Linked DNA regions of Homo sapiens: all the other regions are linked to region 1. Evidence: fine-mapped expression QTL. A gene starts in region 1. Each other region holds a variant in brackets. All regions are shown on one strand. Distances are from middle to middle.

What was found. PIP is the estimated chance that this variant, and not a neighbour inherited with it, causes the effect.
Region 2: its variant is fine-mapped to the expression of OSBPL2 in B cells (Fairfax 2012, PIP 0.95).
Region 3: its variant is fine-mapped to the expression of OSBPL2 in whole blood (TOPMed, PIP 0.94).
Region 4: its variant is fine-mapped to the expression of OSBPL2 in monocytes after LPS (Fairfax 2014, PIP 0.95). The same link has a PIP of 0.9 or more in B cells, CD4 T cells, NK cells and neutrophils.

What each region holds. Positions count from the first base shown.
Region 1 is chr20:62,235,743-62,243,493 of GRCh38, forward strand. OSBPL2 (oxysterol binding protein like 2) reads left to right here and starts at 2,779. Exons shown (of 14, transcript NM_144498.4): 1 at 2,779-2,855. It overlaps LOC105369209 (a long non-coding RNA gene), which reads left to right. Exons shown (of 4, transcript NR_160555.1): 4 at 1-559. RefSeq lists a silencer at 2,507-2,906 and an enhancer at 3,604-4,528.
Region 2 is chr20:62,265,858-62,270,857 of GRCh38, forward strand. The region is part of intron 4 of OSBPL2 (oxysterol binding protein like 2); the gene reads left to right. Among named protein-coding and RNA genes, the nearest start is that of OSBPL2, 30 kb to the left of the region's middle. The variant C/T (reference allele first, on the strand shown) is at 2,291.
Region 3 is chr20:62,181,907-62,189,657 of GRCh38, forward strand. It overlaps MTG2 (mitochondrial ribosome associated GTPase 2), which reads left to right and starts at 1,122. Exons shown (of 7, transcript NM_015666.4): 1 at 1,122-1,151. It overlaps SS18L1 (SS18L1 subunit of BAF chromatin remodeling complex), which reads left to right. Exons shown (of 11, transcript NM_198935.3): 11 at 1-608. RefSeq lists silencers at 751-940, 980-1,164, 1,171-1,340. The variant CG/C (reference allele first, on the strand shown) is at 4,163.
Region 4 is chr20:62,293,692-62,301,384 of GRCh38, forward strand. It overlaps OSBPL2 (oxysterol binding protein like 2), which reads left to right. Exons shown (of 14, transcript NM_144498.4): 14 at 94-2,492. The coding sequence ends at 196. Among named protein-coding and RNA genes, the nearest start is that of ADRM1, 5.5 kb to the right of the region's middle. The variant TG/T (reference allele first, on the strand shown) is at 2,087.

The sequences.
Region 1 (7,751 bases):
AATCACCTGCAGGATGAGCATTTCTCAGGCTCTAGAGAGCATGTGTGGGACACAGCCGCCAGCCCACCTGGTGCGGGGGTCCAGCAGCCACAGCCATGGGAACTCCTGGGCCTGTTGTTCGTGTGCGGATCCTGGTCCGGGAGCCTGGATGCGGCTCTGCCTTGCCGACAAGCTCCTGGGCCAGGCCTGGTCCACCAGACCTCCCTATGCTTGGAGTGCCTGCTTGTTGTGCCTGGAGCTGTGCTGGGCCCTTCCTCATTGCAGGGCTGGGGGAGTCACTTAACCTGTCTGGGGCTCAGTCTTCTCATCTGTAAAGTGGGAATGATGGCACCTGGTACCCACTTGATTGGCTGTTGCAAACATGAAACCAGATGGGCCTGTAAATCACAGGGCACTCGGCCGCCATCACCATCATCATCATCAACATCATCATCCTCATCATCATGGCCCCAGCTCATCCATCTTTGTTGCCTTCTCCACCCCCATCTTCCATCCTTGGAGAACTGTGCCTCTTGAATTGGCCTCGTGACCTAGTAAAGATCATAACAAAGACGCCTAAGTTGGTCTCAAGGCACCCTCCTTACTACCCACCAACTGAGGGAGGATTCTCGCCTAGTCCCAGCAACTGGCCCCGGGGAGGAAGTACCCTTCCCAGTCCTGGCACGTCTCCAGCAGTGCTGGCTGACGGCAGACTACCCTTGAAGCTCAGTTACTGCATTTGTGGAGAGGGGTGAAACCCCTGCTCCAGCCCAGGGGCCATCTGAGATCACACCCCCAACCCCAAGGCCAGGGTGGATCTCCCTGCTTGGCCCTGGGGTGGTCCCTGGGCAGATGAGAGGGTCCTTCTGCCTGAGCCTCTGAGGCTGCCCTCACTGCAGAGCTCGTGGTCAAGGGGTGGGTGGGCAGGTTGGATCCCCTCAAGGGCACAGGGGTTAGAGTCTTAGAGACTTAGGGTGAGGGACATGGAGAGTGATGGGTTTCTGGGACCCTGAGCTGGCCCTGGCAAGGCCCACAGGGAAAGCTGTGGAGCGCAGTCATCTCCGTGGCAACTGGCCTCATCGTCCTTGTCCTGGCTTGGGGGCCGCACGCCTTCCCTTCCCTTTCACCGGCTGGAGTCGCTTTCTTCAGAGGTAACCATGGCAACCCCTTTGTTTCTGAGGCCTGCCCGCCCTCCTCCCCGTTCTCTCTTCAGGAGAGGCTCAGCCAGCTCCTTCCTGGTCCCGGCACGTCTCTAGTGGCGCCGACTGACAGTGGCCCACCAGTGAGTGGGGCCAGCCCCTGGGGTGGGGGAGAACGGCCCTGCTGGGCCCAGAGATGTGGCCTGGGCCCCACCCCTGCCACAGAGGCCACGTTCATTGGCTCACTCATGCCCTGAAATTTATAGAGAGTACCCACGTCTGCCACGGGGCCACAGATGGGGCAAAGGCCTGTCCCTGCCTCCATGGCCCTGCTAGGGGCAGCCTGGAAGTGGGGAGACAAGGCCTGAGGAGGGGGTGCAGAGGCCCAACGGGGGCTGGCTTTGCTGCAGGACGCACTGCGGGGTCACGGGTCATCTGCCAGAGCTCTCAAGGCCACAGGAAGCCCAGGACTCTTGGCTTTACCTCAAATGGGCTGAAGCAGAAACAAGCATGTGGTTCACGTAACTGAAAAGTCAAGGAAAGGACCTGCTGAGGTGCAGCAGGGTCCACGTGACCCGGCCGTGGTTGCTCCGGCTTTCCTCTGGGCTGGCTTCATTCTCGTGCAGCCCTGTTCTCGGGTAGTGAGATGTGGAAGACTGGCCCCTTCCCTCTCTCACCTAACCCAGCTCTGGAGAGGTCTGTGGGCAGATGGGAGAGTCATTTGACTTCAGCCTCCCCTCCGGTCTGAACTCTGACCCTACAGCAAAAGTCCCAGGACTGAGCCTCTTTGGCTAGAACTGGGTCACAGGCTGACCCCTAAACCAACTGCTGTGACTATGTAGCCAGCCTGGTTTATGCCACTCCACTCACCTCAAACCAGACCCATGACTTCAATGAGATGTTGACAGGGGAACCCTGGTTTGCAGATGAAACTGAGTGATCACAGACTCAGAGAGGTTAATTAATTTGTCCAAATCCACACAGCTGGTAAAGAATGCAAGCTCCAGGTCTGATTCCAGAACTTCTGGGCTTAACCCTGGAGCCACTGTAGGTCAGTGGGAGTCCAAAGGGTTTTAAGTATGGTGGTGAAACGGTCGGGGATGCAGCTGGAGGGGTAAATTGGCGCTGGATTTTGGTTGGCGGTGAATGGCATGCAAAGGAGGTGGACGATATTCAGGATTTGGTAGGACAGTGGAAGCAGCTACGCCCCAGCTATCGCACGGTCCCCAGCATTTGTAGGAAAAAGCCCCCAGGGCTTTGGGTAGCCTCGCAGGCCCGCACTGCCGCCAGGACGCAGTGCACCTGAGGGCGGAGCACCCACGCCCCGGGCCACCTGACTCACTGTTTGTCAACTCTGCTCTCTGCAGCCACGCCCTTTCCTCCTTGCCTCCCTCCCCTTTTGGCTCAGGGGCGGCATAACCCCGCCTCTCTCCTGCTGTGACTGGCTGTCCTTGCCGTCACTCCGCTGCGTGGGCGGGGCTCTGAGGGGGCACAGGTAGAGGCCCTTCGCGAAGGGATTAGCATAGTCCCACCCCCCGGCGCGAGCCTCGGGCCGGGCGCTGATTGGGCAGGCAGCGGCCGACGCGGCGGCGCCGGGCGCAGCGAGTGGCGGGCGCGGGCTGTCAGTCGGCGAGGCGGCGGGCCGCACTTCCGCCTCGGTGTCAGTGGGTCGCGGGCCTACGGGGCGGGGGCGGGGCGGCAGTGAGCTCGGCCGGCAACCGAGGGACCCGCGTCCAGGTGAGTGGCCCCCGCCGCCGCCACGCGAAGGCCCGGGACCCCGGCGAGCTGCGGGGCCTGGGCCGCGGGCTGGGGCTGGAGCCGGGGCGGGGAGGGGAGGGCGGGCCGGGCAGGACCCGGGTCCGCAGGCCGCCTCCAGCCCCGGCCCCGGCCCCGGCCTCGACCCCCACTGGGAGGCGCGCCCGGCCTAGGCCGCAGCCTGGCGCCCCGGGGAAACTTTGGGAGGAAAGTTCCGGCCGGGCGTGGGGCCTGGGCCTGGGTCCCGCGGCCCCCGCACCCTTCCCCCTGCGGTCGCCCGGCAACTGCGATCCCGGGACCCCCGGCCCGGCCCCCCCGAGATCCCCAGCCCCCCTGCTGCCCCGCTGAGCAGGAAGTGGGGACGGGCGCACCTGCTCGCGGCCTCGCCCTCTCTCACCACCTCACCGGGAACAGGGAAGGATTTCGTGCGCATTTAGGGCGATCCTGTAGGTGAGGAGGGCGAGTTCCGCCGGGAAGAAGGGCAGGGAGACGCAGTCCCACTCCGACCCTGGCCTTCTTGTCCCGCAGGCCTGTGTGCACGTCGTCCCGGGGAGGGTGCCCGCGAGCCCTTGTCCGTTCCCCTGGGCTCTGTTTTTGTTTTTAATTTATAAATCTTAGCAGACTACACACGGTTGAGAACTTGCTACCTAAAACCTATCTTTGGTAATGTAATTTTAAGAGGTTCCTTCTTTCGCCAGTTATATTTTGGTACTCAGAAGAATACGTCTTTAGACTTTCCAAGTTTATAAGCCCAGACCAAGACTGTTAGGTCGTCACAGCACCTCAGCCTCCCCGCTTCATGGGAGGACCGGCGACGAGGCAGTGGGTGTCGGGGTGTTGCAGGCTCTCCTGGGGTGAGGGTCACCTCCCAGGGGCGTTTCTATCTGAACCGTCCTCTAGGACAGGCCCTGGCCTAGCCTGGCTCCGGCAGCTTTGGGATGACTGCCCGGAACACCTGGAGAAGGGGTCCCATTCGGTTTGGTTGGATAGACGTTTCTCGAATGCCTGCTGTGGGCCTGGCTGGGTGCTGTGCGGCCTTCCCACCAGCTGGATGTGTGGTGAGGACAGCGGAGAGTTGAGGAGCCCGGAACTGGTGCAGGGGCCACATGCTGGGAAGCCACGGCCGTCCCTGCTGCCCTTCCTAACTCGTGCCCATGGCCTCTTTTCTGGCTGTCAGCCTCAACTCCTTCATCCGGACATGTAGCACTTTGCTGATAAGAGAAGCAAACGAGATCATTTTCTTGTTTTATGTTTTGAGATGGAGTCTCGCTTTGTTGCCCAGGCTGGAGTGCAGTGGTGCGATCTTGACTCACTGCCACCTCCGTCTCCCGGCTTCAAGCCATTCTCCTGCCTTAGCCTCCCATCTAGCTGGGACCACAGGCGCCGGCCACCACGCCCGCCTAATTTTTTTATTTTTAGTAGAGATGGGGTTTTACCATGTTGGCCAGGCTGGTCTCGAACTCCTAACCTCAAGGGATCCGCCTGCCTCAGCCTCCCAAAGTGCTAGGATTCCAGGTGCGAGCCACCGCGCCCTGCCATGAAATCATTTTCTACCACAGTCTCTGACACCTAGTGCGCACCCCGGAATGCCAGTTACCTTCCCCTTGTTGAGGACAGGAACTTTGTCGGTGGCACTTCCTCCCTGCCCAGCCCAGTGCCTGCCACAGTGTCGTCTTTTAGAATGTGGCAATGAGTGAGTGAGTGACTGAGTCTCCCTCATAGAATTTACCCTGTTTTCTTCATGTGTCCATCTATTAATGACAGCTCTTACCCCAGCAGACGATAATATTTAATAATGATTGTTCCAGGACTGTTACGAGCATGTCGTATTCACTTTCTTTGTGTGATCTTCACAACAGTCCACTGGGCAGGTACTGACATTATCCTTAGTTCATTCATGAGGAAGCTAAGGAACAGAGAGGTTAAGTAACTTACCTAAACCACACAGCAGTAAATTATGAAATATGGATTTGAACCCAGGCTCCAGGGTTCACACTCTTAAACACTACCCTGTACTGCCTTTTAATATCAAGATTTTCATTTAACATTTTCGTTTAGAATATTCTAATCATGCTGCATTACTCTGTGTCAGAATTTCGGGATTTTGCTACATATAGAACTAATAGACTTTCTTTTTTGTGAGCCTGAGTGTTTACAAAGCCATTTCATTTTTTCTGAAATAAAGTAATTTACCGTTTGACCATTCAGGATTTTGCCAGAATACCTTCCCTGCCACCCAGCTCCTTTGTTACTGGCAGATTCAGTGGTGGTCTCTGTGTGAAGAGGGAGGACTGAGGGGCATGGGTGCTGACAGGCGTACAGTCCAGACTCTGAGGTCTCCGTTCTGAGTTCAGTTCCAGGGGACTTCACACACTGCCTTAGAGTACACACGTAGGACATTTTTCTTCCACGCCTCGAGTGCGTTGAGAGGGTCAGACTCTGCTGTGTTCCACATGTTAATGAGAGGTGCTGTTTGAATGTGAAAAAAATGCCACTTGACTTTCATCCCAGTGTCTCTCCTCTGTGCCGTCCAGGAGATGCCAGCAGATGGGTCTTGGAATTTTTTTTTTTTTGAGATGGAGTCTCGCTCTGTCGCCCAGGCTGGAGTGCAGTGGCGCGAACTCGGCTCACTGCAAACGCGAACTCAGCTCACTGCAAGCTCTGCCTCCCGGGTTCACACCATTCTCCTGCCTCAGCCTCCCAAGTAGCTGGGACTACAGGCGCCCGCCACCACACCTGGCTAATTTTGGGTCTTGGATTTGTCATTAAAGCTTGCTCGACTTTTAAAGTTTTAGTACATTCAGCCAATTACAAAAGTGACATTTTGTATAAGGGAATTGTTGACACATTTTAGGTTCTTATGCTGTCTTCAAGCAGGGAAGCTGCCATCTCCTCAAGGTGATTTCTTTAATGTCCCCATGCAAGCCATGTCTTGTCTGGCCGTGCAGGCACAGCTGGCGCCGTGCCTTCCTGAGTCACAGCATCTTTGCGAAGGTGGTGCGCCAGACCAGGGCTCTTGGGTCCTGGGTGGGTTCCCACTGGCTCCTGCCTTCAGTGTCTTTGCCTGTAAGACGGATTACTATGTGGAATCTGTGAAAATATAACATCAAGTGTCTGATACGTTGTGGGTGCCTGGGCCGCCCTTGGCTCCAACACCTGCTGAAGCTGGAGCCTCTCAGCAGTGCAGCAGTCACACCCTCAGGTGTCCCGGGATCTTTGGGTGTGGGCTGATTTTCTCCTAGTCATTGTCATACTTCCTGTTTGGGTGTTGACATTTCGTTTAGTGTTTAGCACAGATTGTCAGGTACGAGGTTTAATTCCAATATGTAGTACATTTTCAGGTTGATTTATAACCTTATCTACACTGAAAGGAAGTCAGTATTTGAACATGACTGATTATTAAAAAGGACCGAAGTCCTGAGTTAATATGGTGGGTTCTGGTTTGATAGTTTAAATGCACTTTCCACATATGCTAGTTGATTTGTAAATCTGCTGTCATTTTTGCTTTTTCAGAGTGTTCTTGCTAGTGAGTTTCAGGCATGGTGTCCCGGCCTCTCAGGCTGCTGGTTTGGGCTAGGGTCCCACTGTGGAAGCGTGGTGGTGTCCCGGCCCACCTCTGCAGCTCTTGATAATAAAAGCATCTGTTAAATAGCTCACAGCACTGTTTGCGTGAACTTTTTGGCACTTCTTTCCTTTTCCTTCCAGATTCAGAAAAGAACTTGGGATCATTCAGCAGAATGTCACAGCATCCACATTCTTTCCGCTGGAGCTTCTGCTGATGCAAATCCTGTGACCTCTGAGTTGAGCTGAGTGGTGGAAGTGAGCTTTTATAAGGGACTGGATCTGAGACTCGTGCCTGATGTTTGTGGCTGTTTCTCTTTGCTTGCCTTCTGTTTTCAGTGGAACACTCGCTTGATGTATTTTGAGAAACAAACTCTGGGATCAGTCCTGTTGAGCTAGTGGCTGGCTCCATAGTTTGGGGCCTGAAGAGGTTCCCGCACCCTCAGGGCTTGTGGCGGTCATCAGGCCTCTCTCCTGGGTGTAAGGTGTGTACTTCTCACCTGCGCACTGAGGGCCTGGGGGCTGTGGCCCCGACGCTGAGGCAAGTCAGGGGTGGGAAGGGTCTGAGGGGCTCTTGGCTGAGCAGACACTGAGCACATTTCTTTATCAAAGGCGCTGGGACTGCAACCTTCAGGGGTGCCCAGAGAGCGCCTGTTGTGGGCTCATACGGGGAGTTCTTGGAGGAGCACCAGGCAGGGAGGACTGTAGTGTGTAGGGAGTTGTGTGGAGTTTTGGTTCCAGAAAAGACGGAGGCAGCTGTAGAGGAAGGAGGACTATGGTGTGGAAGTGAGTGCCTGTGCTTTGTACTGAATAAACCTAAGGCTGATCCAAGGCTGATCGTGAGAAAGAGCCCCCTGTAACCTGGGACCTTGTGCCACTGTGCTCGGCCAGAGAGCAACTTCCATTATTGCCTTAAAACTAGGGGGACTGTGATTCAGTGACATTTCGGTGACTCCGATAATGACGGCAGGTGTCAGGTGCGCACAGGGCGTGGGGCTACCCTCTTACTGTGAAAGAGGACACGGGCTGCGTCTGTGGTGGCGAGCTCCTGCGAGTGCCCTGGCTCTGGCTTGGCCTCTCTTGATGATGTAGCAGAGCTGGGAGTCTCGCTGTAATCATCACCCGTCTTCCAAGTAAGTCTCACCTGTGGGAAATGCTGGAACACCTGAGCGGAAGCAGAGCCAGGGCAGTGCCTGAGCTGGGGCCAGGGGAGGGGTCCCAGTGCAGAGGTGCCCGAGGAGCCCTAGCGCCTGCCCCGCAGCCCCTGCCCCGCAGCGCCTGCCCCGCAGCGCCTGCCCGGCAGCTCCGCCTCTTCAG
Region 2 (5,000 bases), 29 kb after region 1:
GTAGTAGCTCATGCCCTCAGGAAAGCTGAGGGAAGAGGATTGCTTGAGGCCAGGAGCTTGAGACCAGAGCCTGGGCAACATAGTGAGACCCCAACTCTACAAAAAAATTTAAAAGATTAGCCAGGCATGGTGGCACATGTCTGTCATCCAGTTACTGGGGAGGCTGAGACAGGAGGATGGCTTGAGCCCAGGAGTTTGAGGCTGCAGTGAACTGTGATTTCACCACTGTGCTCCAGCCTAGATGACAGAGGGAAACCTTGTCTCTTAAAAAAAAATAAATAAAGATTCTAGGACCAAAAGCATCTTTTCAACAACATGAAGTGATGTATATTGCATTCCCTAGGTGAGGGTTGTGGAGAGATTGAGGTGAAAGTTTCATGTGAGCACGTAGGACTGGCAAGCATAGTAGAAAGGCGCTGGGAGGGGCCTTGTGGGGCAGCTCCACCCCTTACACTTCACTTTGAAACACTCCCCTTTGGAGGCTTTGGTGGCACTCCACTCTTTTTACTACTTCTCAGCTTGTATTGAAAAAACACAAGCACACTTGGCAACGTGGACAGTCCCAACATAGACAGACTCAGACAGTGGTGAGCTCATGTCCCCATAGCTGGATCTGCAGTGATTGGCTGTGGCTCGTTCTGGATCCGCAGTGATTGGCTGTGGCTCGTTCTGGATCTGCAGTGATTGGCTGTGGCTCGTTCTGGATCCGAGGTGATTGGCTGTGGCTCGTTCTGGATCCGCAGTGATTGGCTGTGGCTCATTCTGGATCTGCAGTGACGGGCTGTGGCTCTTTCTGTTTGGTCCACACCCCCCACTTCTCTCCTCCCTCGTATTTTGAAGCAAATTCCAGACATCTTTTGTTTGTAAATATTTCTTATGTATATTTAAAGGGTAAGGATTCTTTTTTAATGTGACTGTGATATTATTATTATACTTTAGAAAATAACTTTAGAAAGTCATTTAATATCATCAGATACTCAATCTATGTTCAAATGTCCAGTGGTCTCACGTGTTGCCCTCTGGTGTTTGCAGTCCTGTGTCTGGACCTTGTTTGTGTCCCTCTGTCAGGAAGCCTTTTTGTTGCTCTTTCTCTGAATTTAAAAGCTGTGGGCAGGCCAGGCGTGCGACGGCTCACGCCTATAATCACTGTCAGAGGCTGAGGCGAGAGGATCGCTCGAGGCTACGGGTTCAGAACCAGCCCGGGCAACAAAGTGAGATCCCATCTCTACAAAAAAGAATTAGCCGGGCATGGTGGCGCATGCCTGGGCTCCCAGCTACTCGGGTGGCTGATGTAGGAGGATCACTTGAGCCTGGGAGGTTGAGGCTGCAGTGACTGGTGATCACATTACTACACTCCAGCCTGGGTGACAGAGTGAGACCCTGTCTCTAACAAACAAACAAAGCTGTGGGCGCTCAGAGTCTGGGTCCACTAACTCACTGGGAGTTGCTAGTTGGAGCTGTGCCAACATGATCACCCTTTATTGATTGCCGGGGATAGTTCTGGATGTCTTCCAGTCCACAAATTGTTCCATCTTTGGTCAGTGAGAGTCTCTTCAAGGTGGCCCGGAGTCCTTTACAAAAGGAGCTTCAGGCCTATCCTGTGCGTTTACTGTTTGGGGTCTGGCATCATCTACTTGTCCAGGGAGAGAAGGAGAATTCAGGACCACAGCCGGGCTCTCAGGAGGCCACCGGGGTAGTCTTATTTCGAGGTCTGTTCCTACAGCTAGGAACTGTGTTTTTGTTTGTTTCAGTGATGCTTCAAATTTGGGCCAACAGGCTCCACCTAACCTCTGCGGCCTCATGTCTGCGTCTCTTTTCTCCCTCACTGACAGTCCCAGTTTTCTGCAGCCCTGGCGAGGACAGATTTAGACCGGCACGCAGTTGTGACTCACTCACTTTGCCCCACATACCTGTGGGACCAGCTCTGCTGCCGACAGTGTCTTTGCTGAGACAGCACATGTCTGTGCCTCCTGCAGTTGCCACTTGTCATTGTCTTCAGGGTATATCTCAAATGTCTGCATTATTTTTTATTTATTTATTTTTTTGAGGGAGTCTCGCTCTGTCGCCCAGGCTAGAGTGCAGTGGCGCGATCTCAGCTCACTGCAACCTCTGCCTCCTGGGTTCAAGCAATTCTCCTGCCTCAGCCTCCTGAGTAGCTGGGACTACAGGCGCCTGCCACCGTGCCCGGCTAATTTTTTTTTTTTTTTTTTTTTGTATTTTTAGTAGATACGGGGTTTCACCTTATTGGCCAGGCTGGTCTCAAACTCCTGACCTTGTGATCCGCCCACCT[C/T]GGCCTCCCAAAGTGTTGGGATTACAAGCGTGAGCCACCGCGCCCGGCCAAATGACTGCATTTTAAAACCACCTGGGTGCTTCTTCGCTGGGTGATTGTGCCACCAAAGGAATGACATAGGTTCATTTGTTTCATTTTTGATATTGAGAGATGACTTTTTAAAATTTAATTTTCTTTTTAAATTATGGGTCCTGCATCAAATTTATCAAGCAAGGTATATTCCAGGAGAGTCAGCTTCCTGTCCCTGTCCCCTCCTGGTGCTCTCTGCTTTCCCCACAGGTGACCAGGAGCCAAGTTTAGGGCATGTCTTTCATGCGTCACACAGCTGATTCTACATGTATCTTCTCCCCACTTCTCCCCACTTCTTTACATAAATGAGAGGCTTTCTCCACCTTTTAAAATTCAATAGTATATCCATAGCAACATGCAGTGACTTCTTAATCTATTTATTTATTTATTATTTCTTTTTAGAGACTGAGTCTTGCTGTGTCGCCCAGTCTGGAGTGCAGTGGCAGGATCATGGCTCATTGTAACCTCAAACTCCTGGGCTTAAGTGAACCTCCCACATGAGCCTCTGGAGTAGCTGGGACTACAGGAACCCACCACCATGCCCAGCTACTTTTAAAAAATTTTTTGGCAGTGGCTCACGCCTGTAATCCCAGCACTTTAGGAGTCTGAGGCAGGCGGATCACGAAGTCAGGAGTTCGAGACCAGTCTGGTCAACATAGTGAAACCCTGTCTCTACTAAAAATACAAAAAATTAGCCGGGTGTGGCAGTGCATGCCTGTAATCCCAGCTACTTGGGAGGCTGAGGCAGGCGAATCGCTTGAACCCAGGAGGCGGAGAGGTTGCACTGAGCCGAGATCACACCATTGCACTGCTGCCTAGGCGACAGTGTGAGACTCCAACTCAAAAAAAAAAAAAATGTTTTTTTGTAGAGACGGGGTCTCACTTTGTTGCCCAGGCTGGTCTTAAACTCCTGGCCTTAAGTGATCCTCCCCGCCTTGGCCCTGCAAAGTGTTGGAATTACAGGCGTGAGCCATCTCGCCTGGCCGACTTCTGAATCTTTTAATGGCGCGGCGCTCCCTCACATGGCTGCCACCTAGCTTATTGGACTGGCGCCCTGTTGTTGGACATACGGGTCATTTCTGATCTTTCATGGATCCAGCCGTGCGGCAGCAAAGAGCCCTGCATGTGTGTTTGGCCGAGGCTCTGTGGGATAGGTTCCTAGAAGTGGGGCTGCTGGGTCAGGGGCAAATACCCGTAGAGTTTGCTAGAAGCAGCCCAGTCCCCTCGTGGGGCTGCATCACTGTGCATTTCCACAGCAGCCGGGGGGCTTTCCCTGGGTGGGAGTTGCACACAGTTGCGATACCATCTCTCCTCTCCTGAGCAAGGCAGCGTCTCCCCCATGCTCAGGGCTGCCACCGGCCGCACTTCCCGGCCTCCCTGGTCCCAATCTCTGGCCGCTGTGGACTGTGGCCTCTTCTAGTTTACCAGGCGTTTAGAGCACGGGAGGCTGTTGATCCTGGTCTGGAATGTAAATTGCAAATGCTCCCCCATCTGTCTGCTTTTCTGCTCATTCTTTCGGGGCTTCCTTCTTTCTCTGCCACGTGTTCTTGCAGTGCCGAGCTCTGATCACAAGGGTCACCTCTCTTCCTGCTTTCCTCGGCAGCCACATTCCCTTGTGCAGTCTTGGCCACACCCATGTGCCGGGGCTGCCTCAGTTGGAATCCAGTTCTAGCCCCTCCTAAGCCCACAGTCCCCGTGTGTCCAGTGCCATCTGGGGCCTGCTCGCCCCTGCAGCAGCCTGAGCCGCAGGCTCTGTGCGTCTGCCCTGTGCTCTCAGCCTCGGTCCCTGCACTCGTCCTTGACCCAGTGTCTGAGCAGAGCCCCCCTCCCAGCACGGACGCTGAGTTTTGGGAACCTCGCGGCCCAGGCAGAGCGCGTCCTTGTGGTGCTGTGCACACCCCGCCCACCCTCCGTCCACCCTGCGCATGCAGTGCCTGTGGTGTCCTGAGGCCTTGGTGGGGCCGTCCTAGTCCCTGGTGCAGACGAGGAGCCTGAGAGGCTTAGCAGCTCATGTGTGTGTCAGCTGGGAACCCACAGCAAGTGGATTCCAAAGCCTGCCATGTCCCTGTTGCCACTAGCACCTCCTCCTCCACTCCCTCCTGGCCTCTCTGGGTCCTCTCCTTGTCCCTCCTGGCCTCTCTGGGTCCTCTCCTTGTCCCTCCCTGACCTCTCTGGGTCCTCTCCTTGTCCCTCTCTGGCCTCTCTGGGTCCTCTCCTTGTCCCTCTCTGGCCTCTCTGGGTCCTCTCCTTGTCCCTCTCTGGGTCCTCTCCTTGTCCCTCTCTGGCCTCTCTGGGTCCTCTCCTTGTCCCTCTCTGGGTCCTCTCCTTGTCCCTCCTGGCCTCTCTGGGTCCTCTCCTTGTCCCTCTCTGGGTCCTCTCCTTGTCCCTCTCTGGCCTCTCTGGGTCCTCTCTGACCTCTCTGGGTCCTCTCCTTGTCCCTCTCTGGGTCCTCTCCTTGTCCCTCTCTGGGTCCTCTCCTTGTCCCTCTCTGGCCTCTCTGGGTCCTCTCCTTGTCCCTCTCTGGCCTCTCTGGGTCCTCTCCTTGTCCCTCTCTGGGTCCTCTCCTTGTCCCTCTCTGGCCTCTCTGGGTCCTCTCCTTGTCCCTCTCTGGCCTCTCTGGGTCCTCTCCTTGTCCCTCTCT
Region 3 (7,751 bases), 54 kb before region 1:
TTCTTCTTCCTATTGTTCCCTGACATCCAGCAAATTGTGAATTTGAAAAATGATGGCCAGTTTTCAGAAGTGCTGACAAATTCATATTGGTATGCAAAAGCTCATCACCCATTAAGGTTTGTTGTTGAATCAACAGTACTCAGCATATTAAAACAGTACATCAGAACTCATGCCAACAGTCTTTATGATGGGATTAAGGTGGACAAGATCTCCTAAGATCTGTGAATGGGATTAAGGTGGACAAGATCTCCTAAGATCTGAAAAGAAACCTTAATACGCTCATATGGTTGGAGTGTTAAGTGAACCTCTGATTTTGTCAGGGTTTTTCTACGTGTAGGCGTGAATAGGGGGCACCCCTTCAAAACTGTACAAAGAAGACGACTGTTTTCCATTTCCATTTAAACATTTTTAGCCACTTCATTTCTATTTATTGAACAGGTCAAATTTGTCTTGTTATTTGTGAGTACAGTACATTTAAAAAACATCCTTATCGGTTATTTTTTTTTCAGTCGGAGTTTGACGTATAAATTGTTTATGCTTTTGGTGTAATCTCTTAATAAACTGGTTCTTCAAAAATCATCCTATAAAGTGAGTTTTCATGAAGTTAACGGGATTTTGGTGTGATGTGTTTTGCAAATACTTATTACCGAGACCAGGTAGATCGTCACCTCGGCTCCCGGGCAGAGTTCGCGTGCGTCCGCACCGGATTCCCCGCGGCGGCAAGGCGAAGCCAGGGTAAGGGCGGTGGGGACGGCGCCCCGGGGCTGCCCTGCGGTCCCCACTGCCTGCTCTGCGTTGCCCCGTAGCCTCCTCGGGCAACGGCGGTGTCCTCGTCAGACCCGGGAGGTTCCGCAAACGCCGGAGGGGTCAGAGAAGCTGGGGGACCTTGGGCACCGGGTGGAACGGGCGGGGCGGCTGTCCTTGTGCTCGGGCAGCGAGGGCGCCGGCGAGAAGCGCGGCTGCAGCTGAGCGCTCCGCATCCCTCCTGCCGTTGCTCCTGCTTCCGCTACCAGGGACAAGGTCGCCTCTCGGTCCGTCGGCGTGTTTTCTGCACCTGCGCACTGGGCAAGCCTTGGGCTTCCGGAGCCAAAAGGCCCCGGAAGTGGTCGGCCGCTTGCGACGCTCCGGAAGTGACGTGCTTTCCCGAGCCGGTGAGTGCGGGAGCGGGGAGCGGGGAGCGTGGGCCTGGGGGGTGGTCGCGGCCCGGGCGCAAGGAGGGGCCTCGGCTTGGGCCGCGGGGTACCGGGGCGCTGGGAGCGGGAGAGGCCCCGGCCTAGGAGCTGAGAGGCCTGGAGGGCTGCCGGGCTGCGAACCCCGGCGGGACCGAGCGCTGCGGCCCTGGAGTAGCGAGCGCTCGGGCGGTGGGGAGCGGCGCCTTGCTCCCCGGTCCTGCCCCACTCTCTCCGCAGAACCGCGTTTTGGGGTCAGAAGTCTTGTCAGCCACCCCGGTGGTGCTCTGTCACGGGATGGGTGCCGTGTGTGAGTTCCGAGTCAAGTTGTTAGGAATTTGCCTTGATCCAGCGCTCTAAGTATTAAACATTTTAAAGTGATTATTGGCAGTATACAGTTGCACAAAACAACATAAATATATACACATTTGGATGATAAAACAACAATAAAGTTTTGTATTGTAAACGCGCCTCAGGGAGACGCATTTCCAGATAATTCACTGTCCGTGGCTGGCTTCTGCCCAGTGAGAGCGGGTTACCCGTTCTATTCCCATTTACGTTCTCGTAGCTGTGGATACCGAGGAACGGCGTTCACACAGACCTGTAGGTGGGAATTAGAGGGGTTGTTGGGCAGTGTCACTAGAGAAATACCTTTCTTTTGTAAAGGGGAGGACCCATTATAAAAGGGGGACGGGAAAGGAGAATTCAAATTGTTTTAAACGCAGGTTCGTCCTCAGGCAGTTCTGTTTTAGCAGAGAGAACGTAGCGAAACTTGGGCAGAAAATGGATTCCTTTGAAATTATCCTGGCCTTAGTCCCTTGGGAAGTCTGTGTAGGCGAACCTCAGTGAGAAGATTCCTGCCGTAAAATGCAGGTGTCAGCAGCATGCCAGGGAGGCCAGAGGATACTATGTGACTTTGGGCAAGTGACTGAACCTCTGTGAGTCTCAGCCTCCACTGCTTTAGATGGGCATAAAAAATGTAAAGTCAAGAATCAGGTTTCCGCTGGGCGCGGTGGCTCACGCCTGTAATCCCAGAACTTTGGGAGGCCAAGGCGGGCAGATCACGAGGTCAGGAGTTAAAGACCAGCCTGGCCAACATGGTGAAACCCCATCTCTACTAAAAATACAAAAAAGTAGCCGGGCGTGGTGGCAGGCGCCTGTAATCCCAGCTACTGGGGAGGCTGAGGCAGGAGAATCGCTTGAACCTGGGAGGTGGAGGTTGCAGTGAGCCGAGACCGCACCACTCTGCTCCAGCCTAGGCAACAGAGCGAGACTCTGTCTCAAAAACATACCCAAAAAAAAAAAATCAGGTTTCATGCTCACAGGAGGATTTGAGGAGGGTTTATAAAGGGACCGTTTGCAAAGGCAGAGTGCAGGTTAATGACAGTTGGTCCTTTAGCCTGGAACTGGTGGCAGTGGAGTTTCTACTCCTGGACTCCAAAGGATCAGGGAAGGCAGCAGTGATCGGGACAGGGAGAAGAGTCACTGGGGAGGGCTTCTTGGACTGGAGGTGTGAGCCTCAGTCTGAGTGGGCAGGGAGGTCCATGTCCCGGCCTCCTGCTCCTGCCTCCAGTCTCTGGTAGAGGGCCAGGTCCCAGTAGGTTTTCCTATGGGGCAAGCTCAGGCTCCTGACACACAGCACAGGGCAGGGTGGAAAGCTGGTCTGGAAAAGCAAATGGAAGATAGCTCGGCATGCAGTATTACCCCTCGCAGGGTATTATCGTTAGGAATACATTTAAAAGTGGATATATTGGTTGGGTGTGGTGGCTCGCGCCTGTAATCCCAGCACTTTGGGGGGCCGAGGCAGGTGGATTTCCTGAAGTCGGGAGTTCAAGACCAGCCTGGCCAACACGGTGAAACCCCGTCTCTATTAAAAATACAAAAATGAGCTGGGTGTGGTGGTGGGTGCATGTAATCCCAGGTACTCGGGAGGCTGAGGCGAGTGGATCACTTGAACCCATGAGGCGGAGGTTACAGTGAGCCAAGATCCCACCATTGCTCTCCAACCTGGGCTACAAGAGTGAAACTCTGCCTCAAATAAAAAAGAAAAAAAATGGCCAGGGCGTGGTGGCTGATGCTTGTAATCCCAGCAATTTGGGAGGCTGAGGTGGGCGGATCACGAGATCAGGAGTTCAAGACCAGCCTGGCCAACATGGTGAAACCCTGTCTCTACTAAAAATACAAAAATTAGCTGGGCGTGGTGGCATGCAGCTGTAATCCCAGCTACTCGGGAGGTTGAGGCAGGAGAATCCCTTGAACCCGGGAGGCAGAGGTTGCAGTGAGCTGAGATCATGCCACTGCACTCCAGCCTGGGCGACAGAGCGAGACTGTCTCCAAAAAAAATAAAAATAAAAAATAAAAAATAAAATATATACACATACATATATATACATGTATATGTATGTACACAAATTAGCTGAGCGTGGTGATGGGTGCCTGTAATCCCAGCTTCTTGGAACGCTGAAGCACAAGAATTGCTTGAACCCAGGAGGCGAAGGTTGCAGTGAGGTGAGATCATGCTATTGCACTCCAGCCTGGGAGTGAGACAGAGTGAGACTCTTGTCTCAAAAAAAAACCTTTCTGTGATGAGGGCAGTGTTCTAATATGTGCTGTCCCATATGTACCCACTCGTGACATGTGGCTGTGTGCACTTAGATGTTACCTCAGGGACTGAGTTTTTACATTTCAGTTAATTTTAGCCAAATGGCCACATTTGGCCAGTGGGGACTGTGCTGGACAGGTCAAGGACAGCCTTGTTGGAAGGAAAATAAAGACACCAAAGAGCAGCGTGAAAACAGTGGGATTTGTTCATCCGGCAGGGGAGAGAGCACAGCACTCAGCGGGCCTCCAAAGAGAAATTGAAAGGGCAAAAAGGAGGAAGCAAATTAGGCAAGACTCCGAGTTCAGGTCTCTGGTTGGCTTTGCAACCTTCTCTGCGGTTGATCTGCAGGTTCCATGTCACCTGCATCAGGAAGCCTGGTTTCCAGAATATC[CG/C]GGCTGGATGGTGTAACGTTCCAGCAGGCTGAGCCGTGGCTATGCTTGTGTTGATGAGCCCGAGTTGTTTTTCCCCAACCTGTTTTTATGCACCACCCCTGAGCCTTCCCATCTGATAGCTCTGGGTTAAGTCTCTTCACCTGTCTGCCCAGTTTCCGCAACTTTAAAATGAGGATGATGAAGGACTTACTTCACAGAGTTTTATGAGGACTGAATGAGTTAATCCCTGAAAAATACTTAGAACAGTATTTTGCAAGTAGTGAGGTAGAGGTCTTGAAGGTTTACTGTGAAATTATTTTCAGGTACTTTTTGTATTTGGCACTACCATAAATGGGGTTTTTTCTTAATTTTAATTTACAGTTGTTTGCGGCTGGTATTTAAGAATACAACTGATTTTTTTATATTAGCCTGATAACATGCCATCTTGCTCAGTTCCCTTCCCTGGGACTTTTTTTTTTGTTTTTTTTTTTTTTTTTTGAGATGGAGTCTTGCTCTGTCACCCAGGCTGGAGTGCGGTAACGTGATCTCGGCTCACGGCAGCGTCTGCCTCCCAGGTTCAAGCGATTCTCCTGCCTCAGCCTCCCGAGTAGCCGGGACTACAGGCACGTGCCACCACGCCTGGCTAATTTTTATATTTTTAGTAGAGATGGGGTTTCACCATGTTGGCCACGCTGGTCTTGAACTCCTGATCTCAAATGATCCGCCCACCTCGGCCTCCCAAAGTGCTGGGATTACAGGCATGAGCCACCGTGCCCAGCCTTCCCTGGGATTCTCTGTGGAACTCTGTCCTCTCTTCTGTAAACAGGGACAGTTTTACTTCTTCCTTTTTTCCCCCTTTATTTCAGTGTGTGAAAGGACATTGTTGCATAGCAGTGGTATGTGTGGAGGCCCTTTTTCTCCATCTTGGGAGGTAACCATTCAGTATTTCTTCATTAAATGTGATTAGCTGTCGGCCGGCCCTACGTAGTGCCCTTATCAGGGCGAAGATGTTCCCGTCTGTTCCCAGTTTGCTGAGATGTTTTGTTTTCCTCCTCATGAGTGGGTGTTGAGACGGTGGTACCACCTGTTGATATAGTGAAGTGCCTGGGCTGAGTTTTGACTGCTTGATGTGGCCTTGTGTTCTGAGATTACCCCTACTAGGTCTTGATGTGTGATCCTTTCTGAACTGCTGGATTCAATTGGGTAATATTTTGTTAAGAGTTATTTGCATCTATATTCATGAGGGGTATGGTCTATAATTTTATTTTTTCTTAGTGTCAGATTTTGGTACTAGCCTCATAGGATGAGTTGGATAGTGATCTCACTTCCTCTATTTTCTGAAAAAGCTTGTGTAAGATTGGCACTGTTTCTTCCTGGAATGTTACATGGAATTTACCAGGAAAACAAGCCGAGCTAGAGTTTTCCTTTGGGGAGTGTTCTTTTATAAGAAATTTAACTTATTGAGTAGATACAGGGCTATTCTAGATTGTTTATTCTTGTGTTTCTTTAATAAGTTGCCTTTTTCAAGAAATTTGTCCATTTCATGTAAGTTGAATTTGTTACTGAATTTGCTGGCATGAAGTCGTTCCCAGCATTCTCTTGCCCTCTGGCTGTCTGTAAGGTGTGTCCTGATAACCCGTTGAACATTCCTGACAGTGGAGGTTTGCGCTCTCTCGTTTTCCTGATCAGGCTAGAAGTGTGTTAGTTAGCTTGTCTTTTCAGTGAACCTGTTTTTTTCTGTTACATGTTATTGTTGTCTCTTTATTTCTGCTCTGTATTATTCTCCTCCTTCTACTCGACGCTTACTTTGCTCTTTCTGGTTTCTTGATTTGGAGCCTTAGGTTACTGATTTTAGATCTTTCTTCTTTACCAAGGTAGCCATTAGAGCTGTAAGTTTCCTTCTAAACACTACTCTAGCTGCATCTCTTAAATTCTGGTATTTCATGGTGGCGGGCGCCTGTAGTCCCAGCTACTCGGGAGGCTGAGGCAGGAGAATGGCGTGAACCCGGGAGGCAGAACTTTCAGTGGGCCGAGATCACACCACTGCACTCCAGCCTGGGCGACAGTGCGAGACTGTCTCAAAAAAAAAAAAAAAAAATTCTGGTATTTTGCATTTCCATTATAATTCAGTTCAAAACATTTTGTAATTTCTCTTTTGATTTCTTCTTTGGCCTATGGATTATTTAGAAGAAGCTTGTTTGATTTGCAGGTATTTGGGATTTTCCTAGATATTTTCTAGCTATTGACTTCCAATTTAATTCCGAGAATAGACCCTGTGGTTGGTATTCATATACTTCCCCCCAGCCCCACCACAGAAGCTCTGTCACACAGGCTGGAGTGCAGTGTGTGATCATGGTTCACTGCAGCCTCCAACTCCTGGGCTTAAGTGATCCTCCCACCTTAGCCTCCTAAGTAGCTGGTATTATAGGCATGCACCACCATGTCCAGCTAATCAGCTAATTTTTTTTTTTTTTTTTTTTTTTTGGTAGACACAAGGTCTCGCTATTTTGCCCAGGCTGTTCTCAAATTCCTGGCCTCAAGTTTTTCTCCTGCCTTGGCCTCTCAAACTGCTGGGATTACAGGTGTGAGCCACTGTACCGGGCCTTTCTGTATACTTCAAGTAATCTCTAGATTATTTATAGTACAATACAATGTAAATGCTATGTAAATAGCTGTTATACTTTATTTTTTAAATTAAAAAAATTGTTGTATTGTTACTGGTTTTTTTGTTTGTTTTCCAGATATTTTTGACGTGAGGTTTGTTGACCCCACAGATACGGAGGACTGACTATGATTTCTTCTCAATGTATTGAGACTTATGACACATCTTATGGTCTGTTTGATGACTTCCACCTGTACCTGAAAACAGTGTATATTGTACAGTTGTTGGATGTACTGTTATGTAAATGTCAACTAGATAAATGTTTTGATAGTATTGTTCAGATTTTATGTCTTTACTGTTTTTATTTTTCTATTTTTAGACAGGGTCTCAGGCCAGGTGTGGTGGCTCATGCTTGTAATCTCAGCACTTTGGGAGGCCAAGACAGAAGGATCGCTTGAGACCAGCCTGGGTAACTGGGAGACCCTGTCTCTGCAAAAAAAATTTAAAAATTAGGCACAGTGGCACTTACCTGTAGCCCCAGCTACTCAGGAGGCTGAGGCAGGAGGATCTCTTAAGTACAGGAAGTCAAGGCTGTAATGAGCTGTGATTATGTCACTGTGCTCCAGCTTGGGTGACAGAGTGAGACTCTGTCTCAAAAAAAAAAAAGAAAAAAAAGTGTCTCTTTCTCTCATTCTATTGCTCAGGCTGGAGTGCGGTGGCATATTCATAGCTCATAGCAGCTTTGAATTCATGGGCTCAAGTGATTCTCCCACCTCAGCCTCCAAAGTAGCTGGGACTATAGGGGTGCGCCACCATGCCCAGCTAATTCCTTTGGTAGAGACAGGAGTCTTGCTATTTTGCCGAGGCTGGTCTCGAACTCATGGCTTCAAGAGATCTTCCCGCCTTGGCCTCCTACAGTGCTGGGATTACAGCCAGGAACTGCTGTGCCCAGCTAGCTCTTTTTAATCCACTTTGTCAACCTCTGCCTTTTAATTAGAATTTGTAAA
Region 4 (7,693 bases), 58 kb after region 1:
TGAGTTGGGGGAACACACTCCTGCACCCAGAACAGGGCTGCGTTTTCCTTTTGGGCTGAGCATCTTCTGACCCCCCTCCCTTGTATCCGGCAGGTGGTTCTACCCAGGCAATAACCCCTACACTGGGACCCCCGACTGGTTGTATGCAGGGGATTACTTTGAGCGGAATTTCTCCGACTGCCCAGATATCTACTGAGGGCCTGGAGGGGCCTGGGGCCCGGGACCGGAGGCTGACGAGGCTGGACTTCCTCGAGTGGCCACTGTGAGCCTCGTCACAGCAGAAACCAACTTTTCTAACGACTGAGTTCGCGGAGATAGCATCATCCCTGATCAAGGATGTAATTCTAATTAACTGTTGATTGCCAAACATTTCACTCTGCTGTGCCGTCTCTTCATAAAGCTTCACTTGGGATCATCGTCTTCATTAAGGTTTCAACAGGGAAATTCTTCACGGCGCCCTTTTATGTGGCAGAAATCAGCTGGGGCTTGTTTAGCTTCCAGCACACTCTCAGTCATAGCATGTGTAGCTAAAGGAAGTAATGGGAAGGGGTTCATGTTCTCTTTATAATGCAGTGGCAAAAGGTTCTGAAAGCCTTTTAAACTCGAACCAGTGGGGGAAAGATGGATCTTGAAGCTAATCCTGCAGAGAGTTTTATAGAGGCCAGGGATTGCCTTCTAAATTATGATAAAACAGAAGTGAAGAGTTTCAGAGCATCAGATTGAGTGAAAAGTTGTCAGATTCTGTATTTTTTAACAATCTTCAATAATGTAAAGATTACTTTTAAAATATTTAAGTTAAAACTACTTGAATAGTATTTTGCTGAAGAGCAAGATATGCATTAATCACCGGTTTTATACTGTCCAAAATGAAGCATCCCCGTGACAAACCAGAGTGGGCAGAAGCATCGAGAGCGTGACAGGAAATCCCAAGACTGCTTCCGCCTCAGAGGCGTCCCGGCTGCGATTCGCTGCCCTGTTGTCAGTGAGGCCTGGCTGTCACCGCACACCGCGTCCGTGTCTCCAGGGGGTTCCTTTCTTCTCACACGTCGCGTGTACCCATAGCACTCTTGTGTTTCTGTTTTTCCCAGTATGCATGTTTAAAATAGAAGTGACAAGAATCACATCCGGTTGTGTCCTGTGGGAGGGTCAGAGGCAGAATCTACTTACAGTGGTGTAATTAAAGTTATTTAACCAAAAATAGGTATGTGTCCATCTCAGCATTCACCTTTATCAAGTGACTGATTTTTTTTTCTTTTCTTTCCTTTTTTTTTTTTTTTTGAGACGGAGTTTCACTCTTGTTGCCCAGGCTGGAGTGCAATGGCATGATCTCGGCTCACCGCAACCTCCGCCTCCCGGGTTCAAGCGATTCTCCTGCCTCAGCCTCCCAAGTAGCTGGGATTACAGGCACGCGCCACCACACCTGGCTGATTTTGTATTTTTAGTAGACACGGGTTTTCACCATGTTGGTCAGGCTGGTCTCAAACTCCCGACCTCAAGTAGTCTGCCTGCCTCAACCTCCCAAAGTGCTGGGATTACAGGCGTGAGCCACTGCGCCTGGCCGTGACTGATTTTTTTTCATGTAGAATTGTCAACACGAGAGATCACAGTGGAGCACTTTGAAAGACCGTCGGTTGTGTGCACGCACGCACACACTCATGCACACGCTGACACGCGGTTGCATGGAGTCCAGGTTACTCAGGCCGGCACTTCTGAGTGACAGGTGCCACCTGCGTGTGTCTTGGCGTCCACATCACACCTGTGACGGAAGCACTTCTGGAAGTGAACACTCGTTTTGAAAGCTTGATTTTGTAGCTTTGGAAGCTGGAAGCGATGGTGTTTGGTGCCGAGTCCTGTGTCATCCTCGGGGCCTATGAGCTCCGTACCAGCCACTCAAAAGTGTCTGAACAGAACCGCTCCGTGACTGGTAGCTGGGTCTGAGGATTCAGGATTGTGGCGTTATTCAAAGAGGAGACTTTGAAATTCCCCGATGGCTGGAATGTGGAGCCCAGGTGCCTCTGGTGGAGGGTCATCTGCTTTTCCAGACTGTGGTTGTGAACCGGCTCCTTCTCCAAGAAAGGTTGCAAGC[TG/T]AGAACATCCAGAGGTGAGACTCAGACACATTGAAAGTGACTGCATTTAGGGAGGTTTAACGAGTTCTTACTGATCATTCCACTTGTTACTGGTTAAGATAATTTGCCCACGGGTTTGTTTCCAAGTCCTCTTCTAGGACCAGGCTCCTGGTATTTCAGGGGCTGGTTGGCTGCACAGACAGCCCCTCTTCTGCTGTCCTTGAGGACAGACACCAAACCAGAGGTGGAGGAAGAACGGTAGGAAGGCTGATGGCAAAAGCGGCTGTGTGTCGAGGTTATTTTAACTTTTTACTACTTTTTGTTACTGTTTCTGCAAATGCTAACACATAAACCATGACCTAACTTTTGTCACCTTGGATATCTATTGAATGTTAAACATCTCTAATAAAGATGGCCACCACTTAATGTGTGGAAAGTGATGGCCTTCTCGTGGGCCACGCGTTTGGGTGTGAGTATGGCCTTGACCAAGGGTCTTGGTGCTTTATTCACTTTTAGAGATAGGGTCAGTTGCCCAGGCTCGAGTGCAGTGGTGCAGTCATAGCTCACTGCAGCCTCGACATCCTGGGCTCAAGCAGTCCTCCAGCCTCAGCCTCCCAAGTAGCTAGGACCATAGGCACATGCCACCAAACCCAGCTATTTTTTTAAAACAATTTTGTAGAGACAGGATCTCACTGTGTTGCCCAAGCTGGTCTTGAACTCCTGGGCTCAAGCAATCCTCCTGCCTCAGCCTCCCAAAGTGCTGGGATTACAGGTGTGAGCCACTGTGCCAGGCCCTTGGTTCTTTTAAAAAATTAATCCTGTCATGTAGGATGTCCTTACAGAATGAAAAACCTAGCAAGCTTATTCCCCAACAGAACCTAATACCTTGGTTGGATTCTATTGCTAATTGAAATGAGAATTCGGTTCTATGGTCATTGGTTCAGGGTGTATGTATTGTGAGCTGCTGGAGACAGAACGGTGAACAGGCATGCCTCCCGGAGAGCCATATGCAAAGCACGGAGAGCCACATGCAAAGCACGTGTTGGCAACATAGCACATGCTGCTGCTCACCAGGCTCACCTGGGATGACGGTGTGGATCTGAGTCGCTGGCCACGTGGCGACGTCTGCCCTGCCCTAGTGTCCAAGGACGGTGAAGGGTCGGGTGTCACCAACACCTGCAGCCTTCTCACCGGGCGAGGCTTGGGTTGTGGGAAGTGGGGGACAGCTGGCCCTGGTCCCCAGCCCTGATGGACATCCGGCATTTTGCTGGTGCAGGCTGTCCTGAAGCCAGACCCTCCCGAGACTGCTGTCTGGGAGGAGAGCGAGCCAGCGGCCCAGATGCCTTGGTCGTGGGGAGGTGCCTGTGTGTACCGTGAGTTTCCCAGCCTCCGGCGGCAAGTGGGAAAGCCGGTACAGGAAGAGTGGTGCCTGCAGGTGCTCCCGGTCACCACCACCCCTTCCAGACGCCATCCCCAGAGCTCACATCTGTGCTGGCTGGAGGGTCAGGGCTCCACTCTGCCCGACAAGCAGTCTGGTGCAGGGGACGCAAATGTCAGACCCAGCAGGGCCCGGCACTTGGAGAAGTGCCACATGCCACCCTGGTGGCCTCCGGGCACCCCACTGTCCACGTGTCTGAGCATGGAGCTGTCCATCTGGGGCATTGGCCTTGAACACCAAGGACCTGCCCCGGTTTGCCAGGCACATCTGAACACAAGGTCAGGAGGTTAGAACAGGACAAGAGAAACGCCTGGAGGCCTCCTCACAAGGCATCCTGCTCTTTGGGGAAAATTTCTCCCCAGCAGAAATGGGGATTTACAAGTTTTACAGGTCCTTGTCATTTCCGTGAAGGAAAACAAAGCAAAGACAGTTACGAGTTCTGGTGAGCTTCCCACTGAGCTGGGCGACAGAGTTCAGGTCTCCAAGTGCCGGGCCCTGCTGGGTGTGACATTTGCGTCCCCTGCACCAGACTGCTTGTCGGGCAGAGTGGAGCCCTGACCCTCCAGCCAGCACAGATGTGGACGAGGGGCGCAGCTGGACCCCAGAGGAGAGTTCGATCCATCTGCAGGAAGTCCTGATGGTCCCAGTTTTCTTTGATGGCCACATCTGGACTTGCCTGTGTGTAAAGTGGACACAAAAGACGGGGCCCCTGCCGTGGCCGAGAACGTGGCGGTGGCTCCTGCTGCTTGCCAGGCAGCACGGGAGCTGGGTCTCCCTCGGACCCCTCAAAAGATGGTTCCTCACCGTCTTCTACAGGCTGATGTAAAATTTCTGTGAGGCGAAAGCCACATTTGCCAGCTCTGGGTACGAAGTTCACTTCACAGTCGGTCCTTCGCTTGGTGAGCTTTGGGAGCCAGGCTGCCGTGGCCAGATGTTTAGGAGCACGACGGTGGCTCTGCAGAGGGCGATGGTGTGCAGCCGGGCTTTCCTGTCGCCCACACCTTGCAGGCCCTCACCCCTCCCCGTGCCTTCACCCAGCTCCTCCTCCAGTGCCATTCATCCCAGCAGGCAGCAAGGACATGGCAGCTGAGAAAAGATGCCAGCAGAACGCACTTATTTTATAATATTTAACAACTGTCAGTGCCAAACTGCATTAACACAGTCATCCTCAGATTTTTCAGAGGGCTGTGTACACATCTGTGAAAATAAATGTTAACCTCTAAGATTTGAATGAAGATTCTCTGAAGATGGGCAGCAGGTGACCTTTGTTTTACACTGAGCAATTTTTCACCATCTCAGCCGCTCTGGCCATTTTGAAAAGGGCTACAAATCTGCTAAGGATGAGTCCTCATGCCTGGTTATCAGAAGTTTGGACCGCGTGTTCCTGAGGATTGGCCAAGCAAATGGCTCATTTCCAAAAACTGCCCTGTGGAGAGGGGGCTGGGGGACACTCGTGACACCTGTCGGGCGGCACATGTGATGGGTGGAGCACCCAGGTTCTCCAAGCAGCAGGAGGCTCTGATGGACCCCCCTCCCCTGGCGGGGGGACGCTACTGCTAGAAGCAGCGAAGGGCCCGGTGCCCCAGGTTTCAGCTGCCTGCCTTCTGCCGTAAGTTGCCCCAGCACCTTCGTGCTTTTCAGGAGCGTAAGCTGAGCAGACTCAGTCGTCCCAGTGGTCAGTGTGGCTGGGGCAGAGGGACACACGGTCCACAAGACGTCCATGCTCTCGGAATGCTCCAGGGGTTTGGCTGTGGGGCTCCACCACCATTGCCTGAGCCCGGAGCCAGAGGCTCCTCCCACACTGCCTGGTCTGCCCCACAGAGCATCAGTGCCACGCCAGGTGAGGACAGCGCTCACCAGACAACCAGGCCTGCCGCCCCACTGACGCTGACTTCCGGACCTGCAGAACTGTGAGAAAGTACGTTTCGCTTCTTTGTAAACTGCCTGGTCAGTGGTGGCAGCACAGATGGACCGACGTGGACCTCGACGCGAATGGCGGGCTCTGGGCGCTGACCCGGTGGCGGCGTAGCTCACCGAACACCCAGGGGGACCAGAACTCTCTGCCTTCCACTCAGTTGTGACTTGTCTATTTTTAAAATGTTAAAAAAAAAAAAAACCCACAAGGTGCAGTGGCTCACACCTGTAATCCCAGCCTTTGGGAGGTTGAGGCGGGTGGATCGCTCAAGCTCAGGAGTTCGAGACCAACCTGGCCCACATGGTGAAACCCTGTCTCTAATAAAAATACAAAAATTAACCGGGTCTGGTGACACATGCCTGTAATCCCAGCTACTCAGGAGGCTGAGGTAGGAGAACTGCTTGAACTCAGGAGGCGGGGGCTGCAATGAGCTGAGATCAAGCCACTGCACTCCAGCCTATGGGATAGAGTGAGATTCCATCTCAAAAAAAAAAAAAAAAAAAAAAAAGTTTAAAAAACCCTACCCCTGCCAAATGCTTTTCCGAAGTAGCCGTGCCATTGGTGTTTCCAACTTTGCCTGGCACCTTCCATCGTTTGCTAAGTTCCAGCAGGTGTATTTCATTTGCATTTCCCTCATGAATAATGGTGTTGAGCAGCTTGCCATGGTGCCTTTGCTGCCTGTGACCTCTTTGGTGAAACATCCGGAGGTGTCTTCTGCCCACGTGGAGGCGCAGCCTGGGCTCTGCCGCCCACCTTTCACCCGAGGAGCCTGCAGCACGTGGAGAGCATCAGGGTGTGCTTTCTTTACAGTTTGGGGCTTTTTTGAGACAGGGTCTCGCTCTGTCACCCAGGCTGCAGTGCAGTGGTGCCATCACGGCTCACCGCCAGCCTTGACCTTCACCTCAGCCTCCCAAGTAGCTGAGACTACAGGCATGCACCGCCATGGCTGGCTCTTTTTTAATTTGTCTTTTTCTAAAGACAGGGTCTCACTGTCTTGATTAAGCTGGTCTTGGAACTCCTGGGCTTCAAGGGACCCTCTCAGCTCGGCCTCCCAAAGTGCTGGGATTGCAGGTGTGAGCCATCATGCAAGTCTGGGGTTGTTTTTTTTTTGCTAAACAGGATGAATAGAAATCTCTTTTGGGGGATCTCTTAGTCCAAATCCTTTAGCTGAATGCGCGTGTCCCGGTGAGGCTGCTCCTCTAGATGCTGCGGGCATTTTGCAGACGTCCCACCAACTGCCATCAGCGACCAATTAGAAGATAGGGACAGCTGCACATGTCACACAGCCCTTCTGACCTTGTGTGTGCTTCAAGTCCGAGATTCCTGACACAAAGCAGCGTGTGCCCCCCCACCCACTCTGTGGCCACAGCTGGAGTCCTGGGCTGCTGGGTGCTCCAGGTGCCATACCCCACACACGCATAGAGCCCGTGGGCTGGCAGCGGGCACCCACAGTGGCCTCTGCAAAGCCTGCCTGGCTGCGGCTCGTTTCCTCACTGCAGCATGCTCATAGGAATGTGGGAGTTTCGCTTGAAGTGTGGGTAAAGAGTTCTGGGGTTGTTTGAGCCATCCCAGGCCACAGGGCCTCCAGGAAGTGGAGGAAATGGTAAATCCAGGGTCCTCTTGGCCACTGCGTTGGCCTCTGCACACTTGGCCCCTGCGGACCCTGGGGCTTCTGCTTTACTGTCTGTGACATAAACAAGTGACGCTTGCCACCTTCTTGCCGGGAAAGCCAGGCTGGGTTTTCTCATTTCCACCTTTTCCCTGTTTTACACGAGGGCACGAGGATGGGGCTGCAGTATCAGTGACGCACCTGTCACCAGCGGGCCACAGAGCTTTGTGTTAGCCCCTCTCAAGCCCTTTAGCTTCTGGAACCGTTTAAATTCTTAAAAATTATACAGGACCCCAAAGAGCTTTTGTTTATGTGAGCTTTATCTATTGACATTTACCATACTAGGAATTAAGAGGACATTTAAAATTATTTAGCTACATAAAAATAACAATAACAAACTTACTACCTGTTAACACACATTTTAAAATGAAAAGTGGCTACATTTTCCAAAACAAAAAACGTGAATCTTTAGCTCAATCAATGTTTCAAATGGAAGCATTATGACAGTCAAAAGCTGGCAACTAAACATAACTGGCACAAGCTCTGCCACCGAGACAATGGAGGCCTGAGTAGTAGGCTCCCTGCAGAATGAAAGGACTGGAGCTGCCAGCATCAACACCAACGCATCTCCCAACAAGGGTGAGTGAAAACACACACCTAAAGAC